2 separate regions of the Homo sapiens genome follow, and region 1 is linked to region 2. Evidence: fine-mapped expression QTL. A gene starts in region 2. The other region holds a variant in brackets. All regions are shown on one strand. Distances are between the middles of the regions. Region 1 has its middle 40 kb from the start of NEBL-AS1. Region 2 holds the start of NEBL (nebulette).

What was found.
Region 1: its variant is fine-mapped to the expression of NEBL in neutrophils (CEDAR, PIP 0.95). The same link has a PIP of 0.9 or more in monocytes.

The regions. Positions count from the first base shown.
Region 1 is chr10:21,211,792-21,217,188 of GRCh38, reverse strand. It overlaps a transcript of NEBL not described here. Among named protein-coding and RNA genes, the nearest start is that of NEBL-AS1, 40 kb to the right of the region's middle. The variant T/C (reference allele first, on the strand shown) is at 2,706.
Region 2 is chr10:20,894,843-20,900,239 of GRCh38, reverse strand. It overlaps NEBL (nebulette), which reads left to right and starts at 2,929. Exons shown (of 28, transcript NM_006393.3): 1 at 2,929-3,115; 2 at 3,211-3,282. The coding sequence starts at 3,035.

The DNA of each region.
Region 1 (5,397 bases), 320 kb before region 2:
TAGATTTTGGGGGGATGCCAGCTTCTCTGGGTGCTGCTGAAGAAGTCTTCCCCAACAACTGTGCGTGCAGAGGTGGACTTACCTTGAAGCTAACGACACTCACATCAGGTCCCCTCAGTGCAGAGCCCCTTCCCAGGGGTATTGTGTTCCTATGGTAGTAGTTTAGTAAAATTAGCAAAAGTATGATTTTTTTTTTTCTTCGAGACTGAGTCTTGCTCTGTCTCCCAGGCTGGAGTGCAGTGGCGCGATCTTGGCTCACTGCAACCTCCACCTTCTGGGTTCAAGCGATTCTCCTGCCTCAGCCTCCCAAGTAGCTGGGATTACAGGCACGTGCCACCACACCCGGCTAATTTTTGTATATTTAGTAGTGATGGGTTTTCGTGTTTCTTTTCTTTTTTCTTTTTCTTTTTTTTTTTTCGAGATGGAGTCTTGCTTTGTTGCCCAGCCTAGAGTGCAGTGGTGCGATCTCGGCTCACCACAACCTCCATCTCCTGGGTTCAAGCAATTCTTCTGCCTCAGCCTCCCAAGAAGCTGGGTCTACAGGTGTGTGCCACCATGCCCAGCTAATTTTTGTGTCTTTAGTAGAGACAGGGTTTCACTGTGTTGGCCAGGCTGGTATCGAACTCCTGACCTCATGATCCGCCTACCTTGCCCTCCCAAAGTGCTAGGATTACAGGCTTGAACCACTGCGCCTGGCCCAAGAGATGGGTTTTCATCATGTTGGCCAGGCTGGTCTTGAACTCCGGACCTCGTGATCTTCCCGCCTGGGCCTCCCAAAGTGCTGGGATTACAGGCATGAGATACTGCACCCGGCCAAAAAGTGTGATCTTTTAATTGCAGCTGGTTAGGACCACTGTGTCTTCCCCTTTTGACTTCTCCTTGTCTTAATTCTCCTTGAGTTGGGTGGCATTGAAGTAGCCACAGGCACTTGGATATGTGGCTAAGGGGAAGTCAGGTTGGGGGTGTATATTTAGTGAGAGTTTAGTGGGATGTGTTCTGGTGGTTCAGAGTCACTCTGTAGACAACTCGTGGCTGGCTTTCCCACGTAGGATGGGTTTCAGCAGTACCCTACTGCATACCGTGGCAACTTGACTGGAATTATGAATGACGGCCTAGAATCAGGGGCGGAACTGTGATGTGAACCTGTCTTAGGATACTGACCCTGCTGGGAAGTAGGAAGTGAAGGAGGAACAAGTAGAGCTGGAAACTAGTTTGGGAGGGCAGGTGCGGTGGCTCACGCCTATAATTCCAGCACTTTGGGAGGCTGAGACAGGAAGATCACTTGAGCCCAGGAGTTTAAGACCAGCCTGAGCAACATGGCAAGACCCTGTCTCTATAAATAACCAAATCAAAAACAAAAACTGGTCAAGCATGGTGGCACATGCCTATGGTCCCATTTACTCAAGAGGCTGAGGTGGAAGGATCAACTGAGCCTGGGAGGTTGAGGCTGCAGTGAGCTGTGATTGTGCTACTGCGTTCCAGACTGGATGACAGAGTAAGACCCTGTCTCAAAAACAAAAACAAAACAAAACAAAACAAAAAAAACTAGTCTGTGGAAAATATTATGGTAGTGGGTCAGCCAGTTAATAAACAGATTATATTTTTTTCTTTGCCTTTTGTGGCACTTGCAGTATTTGTTAGTTTTAAAAGATATGTTATTTGTTGTGAAATCTTTTCTCATTCTGAATATTTACTTTTGTGCTACATTTTGCATTCATGAGTTTGTATTGTTTTGCTTAATTTGCTCCCTGAATACAGATGCTACAGAGAATCCTCCCAAATGTGAGTTTTATGAGCACCATGAAATGCCCATAATAAGACAGCCCATTGCAAACACATATTCTTCATTTGTGCAGATCTTTTAAAAACTCTTTTTAAAAGAGATAGGCTCTTGCCCTGTCACCTAGGCTGAAGTACAGTGGCGTGATCATAGCTCACTGCAGCCTCAAACTCCTGGCCTCAAGAAATCCTCCTGCCCTACCTCCTGAGTAGCTGGGACTGCAGGTGCGTGCCACCACATGCCACTAATTTGTGCAAATCTAACCAAATTGTATGTTAGGTAAGAAGACAGAAACTAAAAGTTCATTTTAGTTATTTCGCTCTAATCTTCAAGTTTTGTGGATTTAAAACTCTGGCCAAGTGGAAGTTGACATCTCTTCATGGGGTCGGAGGGATCAGGGTGGGGTGAGGCAGGTGGCACAGGGAGGGCTTCACAGTTTATTGCTCCTCCCCGGCAGGGAAAAGGGAGCTAGATTCCAGGAGATGGGGGCAGAGAGACACAGCAGGGCCTGTCCTTTAATTTATTTCCTATTCTTTTCTAAAAGAACACAGGATATTCTCTTTAAAGACACTAATATTAGGAGTGTAGCCAAAAATACTGACAATGATTAATTCTGGGAGCTTCAATTAAAAGTGATTTCCATTTTTTCCCTTTTTACATACTATATATTTTCTGACTTTTCTGTAAATACCATGAATTAGCAGTTAAAAAAGAAGCACCTGAAAAACCCTTTCCTCACTGTACCCAACAATCTTGCATGTGTGCATGTGTGTGTAATGTGCATATGTGTGCATGTGTGTGCATGTGTATATGTGTGTGTAATGTGCATGTGTGCGTGTGTGTAATGTGTGCACATGTGTGTGCATGTGTGTATGTGTGTGTAATGTGCATGTGTGCATGTGTGTGCATGTGTGTAATGTGCGCG[T/C]GTGTGTGCATGTGTGTGCCATGTGTGTGCCATGTGTGTATGGGGTAGTTATACTGAGGAGATCCTTTTCCTTTCTTCTCTTCTTGTTTCTTTCCTTCCTCCCTCTCTTCCTTTTTCCCTTAGCACAAATGCATAAAGGCTTACTAGTGTCTTAATAAATCTTCAGAAAGTACAAAGAATGCTTTATTTGATACCACTAAAAATAAGTGCAAGATACAAATTTTTAATTTGAAAAAACATAAGATAGAAAGCACTTTTCTTTGCCTTTTGTGTGTGTGCATGATATACATATATGATATATATACATCTATATCATATACTTATACATATATATTATATACATATATATACATGAAATTCATGAGTAAATTACCAATTCATTGTTGAGAATTGAAGAAGACTAAGACAGAAGTTAAGATTTAATTATCTGTCTGTATTATCATCATTCAAGACACAAAACTGCTGAGTTTTATAATTGTGGGGAAAATCTATTGTCTGTGACAACTCCCTTTACCAGCCGATACTTACATAAAAGTCCAGGAGACACAGTTTATTGCTTTTAAGGAAGACCTTGTCCTTTCCCTCGCAAATGATGTGTGGTGTCTCGAGCTTGTTGGACTTCCTCTGGGCACAGAACATGGAAGATGAGCAGGTATATAATGTGTAGATATTCGTTGGTCCTTTTAAGAGAGGAATATTTGCAGTAAAAATAGAATAATTTATTTAAGATATAAACTCCACTTACATTATAGCTAAAGGCTGCTATAGAACCCATTTCTAAGGTTTTTCTCTATTTACTCTACTCCTCAAGCCCAGGTCGCCCCAGGCCTTCTCCTGCCCTGGTTCCCTGCCTCGGGACATTCTCATTGCTAAGTCCTGAGAGCATCTTCATGAATGCCTCATTAACACTTCCTGGCTATTCATTAGCAAAGTTAGTGTCTTCTCCTGGTTACTTAAAAATCTCTTGGTCAGCCCTGTAACTTGCACACAAGGAGGCATTCAGACAGTGTTGTTTTGAAAGTGCATTTTATAGACACTGTTCTTTAGACTGAAGCTTCCCCCGTCCTCCGCTCCTCTCCGGTTTTCCTCCGCCTGCACTCAACCAGCTCTACATCTCCATCTGTTTTGAATCTTCTCTAATGTCCTTTCTCTGGGCACAGGAACCCAGACACTCTACATTCTGATTTTTTAAAGGGAGTCAAATCAGTCTGCAACAAGACCAAATACAAGTTCAAGGAAACTGAACCATCAACTGAAATTTGCCTGTCAAGCTTATCTTTTTCTGCATTCTTTGAGTATTAGTGAGTAAACAGAAATGGCATAATAAACTATCATTTCAATCCAACTTTGGGCAACCATCAGCTTGAAGGGCTTGGGTTATTGTGAGATAAAGTGAGATGAGACATGGCTAAATTCCAACCGGTGCCTGGCACATGGTGAGCACTCCGATATTAATTCATTGCCTTCGTTTTGTCACGGTGGTCTGGTTACATTTGTAGCTGCTACCGTGTAGCTCTGCACCATGAAGAATCACTAAGAACTTAATGAGCTGTATTTTCTCCAAAGCCATAGGCTTTGTCAACACAATGCTAAACATTGTGACAATTTTTGACTGAATCGAGTTAACTGACTGAATGTTTTGAAGTATTGACACAGCAGCTAAAGGAGTGAGAACGGTAGTCAAGCCAGCTATTTCCTATGATGAAAAGTGGCAAGTATTTCAAAAATAAAACTAGTGTCGAAACACGAGAAGCCAGTGGAAGTCGCAAGTGGCCACAGGGCCTTTGGAAAGCACTCACTGAAGGACCTGGCTCAGGAGCCAGGTGTGGTAACAAAAATCTGAAGATGTCCCTGGTCATCCAACAAGCTAAGCAAAGCTGAAGAACCGGGTGATTCCACCCCTTTCACCGAAGCTTCTGTAATTTACTTCCTTAACAGAAAATGGGAAGTTTCACAAACTCTTGAGAAATGACGAGTGTTGGTTTATTCCTTCCATCTTTTCAGCCGTTGCTTGCCTTTCCTTCTTTCCTCCCATCACTCTGAGGAGGGGTAGGCGCTGTCCAGACGTTAGCGCTGGGTGTTCGAAATCTTTGCAAGGAAAGTTGGGGCCAGGATTGCACTAATTGGGAAATCTTTGTTTGTCAGTTTAATTTTCAGTGAATTTCCTGAAAGATTAAAAAGATTGTGTTGTACATTACAGATATATATACATTTACAAGTTGTTATATATGTATATTATATGTAACATAATAAATCATATATTTGTATTATCTTTCTGACATATTATACATATATTGTACACAGTATTATATGTAGTATATATAGTGTTGTCACTCAGATGTAGCGATAATACTGTATATATACTGTATCTAACATAGTATATATTATATGTATACTGTGTAATAGTTGTATAATATGTAATAATAATATATGCATAACATTTACATATGTACATATGTTTATAGATATATATATCTGAAGAGAGAGAGAGAATTGAGTGATTTAAAACCCTGAAATGTATTTACTAGCATTACATAAGAGCAAACACACTTGATAGTAACTTGGTAGGTCATTTATGAAAGATTTCTGACCTCAGCATGAGTGAGAAATTCTGTGCTTCTCCAATTACCATTGGAGAATGAATGAAGCCATGACGACAGATCCGTTTCCATCATCACAATCACTGCTGGTT
Region 2 (5,397 bases):
TTCTGTATCAAGGCATGCGTAGAGTACTAAAGTAGAAAAGTAAACAACATAAAAGAAGTGCCCAATAAGTAAAAGCTATGAGCAGCTACAGAGATTTTGCCTTTTGGAGCAACCCAAGGTGAAAATATCTATTAAAATACATTAAGCTTGGTTTTTGGAAAAGTCGATAGGGGATTTTGAAACATGATAGCTGTCCATGAGGAACACTTTCTTCATATTCTCCATGTCATATTTTAGAGCTACTGACAAGAAAACTTTGCTGTGATGAAGTGCAGGGCTTAACACTTTTTTAGAGAAAACTTTGCATGAATTTTATATTATAGGTGAGAGGAAAAAAGATGTATTCAATCAAAAGTAATGGTGTCTCTAGCTTGCCAAACGATCCATTAAAGACTTCATCCAGCAAGTGTTGAGTGATGAGTATTTTATTTCCAATTCTATCTTAGTATGAAGAATATTTTATTCACCATTCTATCTCTAACACCAAGCACAGTGCCTGGCATAACAACATTTATTTGTTGAACAAATGAACACAGGTCTCTAGTTAGGTTCTGATCCTAGTGCTTCATTGAATGGCTTTGTAAATGAGACACATAATTTTTCATAGCCTTCATTTTGTCATCTGTGAAAGAGAGGGCTTTAGGTGTATTGATTTCTTAAGGATCCCTTTGGCTTGAAATTCTGATTCTAGAATCTCAAATGGAAAATTTGTGTTCACATTGCACGTGGTGTTTGGTTTTTGTTTTCAAAAGTTTGTGCATTAAATCTCAACAGCTTATTTTCTTGCAGCACAGTGAAGAGTCCCTAAGAACATATTACGTGATGGGAAATGAGAAATAACTGCACTGCAAGCCTGATGAAGGTAATTCACCTTGGGGAATAGGTGTCACCCTGAGTAACACCAGTACTGTCTCCTCAAATATGAGCCAAAAGGTGTGTCTCAGGCAGTTTTGGCAAGATTTTCTCCCTACACTCCTAGAAATTTGCAAGACAAGTTTACAGAAATTACTCCTCCCTATTTCCAAATAAAGATAATGTAATAGATCTATAGAATATTAGAATAGTCTTCTGGCCAGCAGAGGACTTGAGGGAAATAATTGGAATGCACACATTCTTTCCTTTTACGGAACAAATAAAATATACAAGGAATGTCCTTGTGGAATCCACTACACTGGGCCAGCATGATATGGCTGTAATCTTAGAGTTGTGGTTTCCAAGTTCAGCATGCTTGAGGCAATTTCTTTTTGGTATTTTGTTGGTGAACAGGATATGTGATACCATTAATTTAGCCTGTATCAAAAACTAGTTCAAGACCAACAGCTCCTTCTAGAACACAACATTTTAGGAGAATAGAGCAATGTTTCCCTAAGCAGTCGGTCATATTTCACAGAGGAGTGTTAGTTTTCTGGGGTAGTGGGTATGATTAAAAAAAAGATAGGTAGATAGGTAGGTAGGTAGATTAGATTAAATTGGATTAGATTTGATGAGATAAACAGGTTTGTGTTCAGGGGAACACGAGGTTAAGCAAGCCTAAGCAGGTTTTTTGGTTGAAGGTCTTCTCAGAACTTCTAGTATGTCAATATGCCTTGTAGATCTCTAAGTGGCAGGGACAGAGACTGGGGTACAGATTTCCCAAACATATTTGTTTAAGAAACCTGCTTTTTTCCCCCAGAATCTTTTGTGGAACTTTTGCCTCATGGAACACAATTTCAGAAATAATTTATACGTGATGACTGTGTAGAATGTTTTTCTTGTCAGGATTTTCAGTTTAGGTAAGGCCAAGGCATTTTTTTTTTACAGTACATTGAAAACTAGATATGATATCAAGAGAAAAAATTATGCTTGGCTACTTAGAATGACATACTATTTTTAATAAATTTGTATTTTGTATCATCAGTATTACTATTCAGTGTAGGGTATTTTTTATGCCCAATGCTAATGTGCTATGACTTGGTAAAATTAATTTACCCTAGGATTTACATAACCAGATTAATAAATTGTGAGTTGTAGGGAGTCTTGGAATTGCCTGAATTGACATTAAAATATTTGTTTTGAGAAATTTTTTTTTAACCTTGGTTTTACGTAACCAAGGACATACACTACATTATAAATATTGTGATGGTTTATTTTTCCAAACTTTTCTGAATGTGGGGTGCCCATTGAGTAATAATGCAAATCACCAATGACTTTGTAAAAATTGACATGATGAGTAGAACTGCAGAATTCAAAGATGATGATGATGATTTTTGAAACGATGTTTCCAGAATTGTTAAATTATGTATCAACATATGTTAACTGCAACTTCTCATGTTTAATGATGTTTACAATTAATACAATACCATACTCGCCAGTATAATACTAACAGTCATAATTAACTCAGAATAGATTCTTTGAAGTGGTTCAAAGGGCTTTTCATAATAAATAAGTAGCCTCTAATCAGCTAATATAAAGTGGGTATTTTTTAGGATGTGAGAAGTACTGGTATGTCTGATAAAACATATAATTTAGGTTGACAAAATGAGTTTGAATGATCCAGATTCACTACCCCAAGTCAGAAGGAAGTCTGACATTCCAGTGAAAGCTTTATTTAGACAGAGACAAGGAATCTTTGAGATAACAGGCTTTGGACTGTGCTATCTTGAGTGTTAGAGCTGAGTAGTTTTCCCAGAATCTCTAAGTCCTTTTTATGCTCTTTTATGAATGAATAGAATTAGTAAAAGATAAATAAATTTTTTCTTTTGGATTTCTTAACCAGTGGAAAAAATGTTGACTTTAAAAGTTCATAAAATCAAATTTTGCTTAAGAATATGTTATTTCCACTTGTGAGGCCAGCCTGGTAGACCTCTGGGATCCTTTTCTGTTCACTCACACACCACTGAGATAAGGAGTGAAGTGTGGGCTAAATAGGGCTGAGGCTTGGGCAAGGGCATTTCTGCCAGAGCACCAGAGACGTCAGCATCTCAAGGGCACTGTGGTATGGAAAAGGACGCCACATGAGTAAATTTTAAAAATATAAATATTTTAAAGGGTAAAAATGAGGGTCCCTGTATTTGAGGATATAAAAGATGAAACTGAAGAAGAAAAGATAGGGGAAGAAGAAAATGAAGAAGACCAGGTGAGTGAGAAAACACATACTCAGACCAGCGTTTGTTCCTCTAAATTGACAATGAGAAAAATGTTCTTTCTGTTCTTTTCTTTTTTTTCAAATAGGTCTTCTATAAGCCTGTTATTGAAGACTTAAGCATGGAATTGGCCAGAAAATGCACGGAACTCATTAGCGATGTAAGTGGCTGGAGTAATTTTTGTCTTATTTTGCATTGCACCTGTGGTATTATTATGTTATAGAGTCATAGAGCTGTGGGGGAAACCCTGAAATCACCTTTTAAAACACAGTCACTTTCCAGATCATGGAACAAAGTCCTGAAATTTTCAGTGATTTCCCCAAGGTCACCTATACAGAGAATTTCTGCTAGAGCAAGTCTCCTCATTCTTAATCCAGAATCCTGTCCCTTATGAGTTTTGCTGTCACGCTGGCATGAAATCATAAGGCATTGAATTGCAGTATTTATTCCATTTGAGAACCCCCAAAGATTTTAAAATGAATATAATGATGTAATTTGTCTTGGGAGGCCCTCTATCTAAATGAATAGTCATTTTTTTAACATTTTGGGGCCTTCTGAACAATCTAATGAATGGACTTGTCTTCCAGAACAGGAAAATGCATATATATATATATATATATATATATATATATATGCATATAATATTTATTTACAATTCAGGATTTGTTGATTACTGACCTGCTTGCTAAGAACCCTGATATTAGTGCAAGGATATTAGTGCAAGGGGTATTTTTGTTGTGACATTTTTTAGTAACTGGGATTGGTTGATATTACACTTTAAGGGAATCCCAGAATTATTGAATGATTGAACATATAATTTTATGTTAAATATGTAAGCTAGAATTCAAGAAGTACAAGGAAAAATGTTGCTCACCAGGGATGAGAATTTAGATGATCCTCATTAGCGGTTCTAAGAGGATTGCTGGTCCAGAGAAAGGGTAACTCCTGTAAAGTGAATATGTGCCTGTGTCTTCATTTAGAGAGATGAGCACAATACTGGTTGTTTCTGTTGTTGATAATAAGCAAAATGATCAGAATGTTTTGCACGTTTGTTTTCTAACGGAAGTCAGTCCTGGGCAGGAGGGTAGTGGTCTGGCACATCCTCCAAAGTCAACCTGCCTGGGTTGACTCCCCAGTAACCTTGGGAAGGTTATGGAACCTGGCTTGGCTCCATCCCTCAGCTGTAACATTTATAATAAGATTAAATAATGGTAATGCATATAAATGCTGAATAAACTATCTGGAACATTGTGAGTACTCCATAAATGTTAGCTGTTATTAACTACTCTGTCTGTTACTTCCTTTTACATCCATCCAATCACAATTTAGATATGACTGGCTCTTTCTGACAAACCAGAAGGCAAGCACAAAGGATGCTGGTGGAAATCATACCCTTTCCCATATACTTGACATGTGATGTAATTACCCTTTAAATTAAGTATTTCTTTGTGCTATTACTTAATAGTCATTAGCTATTGTATGTGAAAGTTCTCTGTAAATTGCAGTAATAATAAGTGACAATGACAACAACAACAACAATAACACTATTGGCAACAGTTAAGATTTAGTGACTATTGTGTGCCAGGGATTGCAGCTTGCGAGGTAGGCGCTAGGCTTTTTCTCATTTCTGAAGCGAGGAGATAGAGGCACAGAGAGGTTCAGTACCTTGCCTGGGTCACACAGTTAAGCAGAGGCAGTAATAGTTGAACACAGAGGCCTCCCTCTTTACACTGCCAAGTTATCTCTCCCTGTAGATTTCCATGAAATGTTGTTCTTCGCCTTATTATTATTATGTTACTATTATTAGTAGTAATGCTACCAACTAAAACCCTGAGTTCCTAACCTCTTCCAGCTTTGATATATTTTTATTGAAGTGCAATTATAGCTGAGCTAACTTGTGTTACATAAACCATCAGGACTAAAGTGGTAACTGTAGTTAGTAGGTGATTTGGTTGGAGTTGTTTTGGATAAGATTGTCTATCAGTGACTTTAAAACCAACATGTTGTGAGGGGTGGTGGCCTTTATCATTATGCAAAAGCTAAATCCATACATTTCACACCCACGTAGGTAAAATGAAACAGATAGGCATACTTTCTGTTTATTACAGATTTTTGTGGCATGGTAGAATGTACTACTTAAATTTAGGACATGATTATTCTGCCTTAATTTTTTTTTTTTTTTTTTTTTTTAGACAGAGTCTCGCTCTATCACCCAGGCTGGAGGGCAGTGGCACGATCTCGGCTCACTGCAAGCTCCGCCTCCTGGGTTCACGCC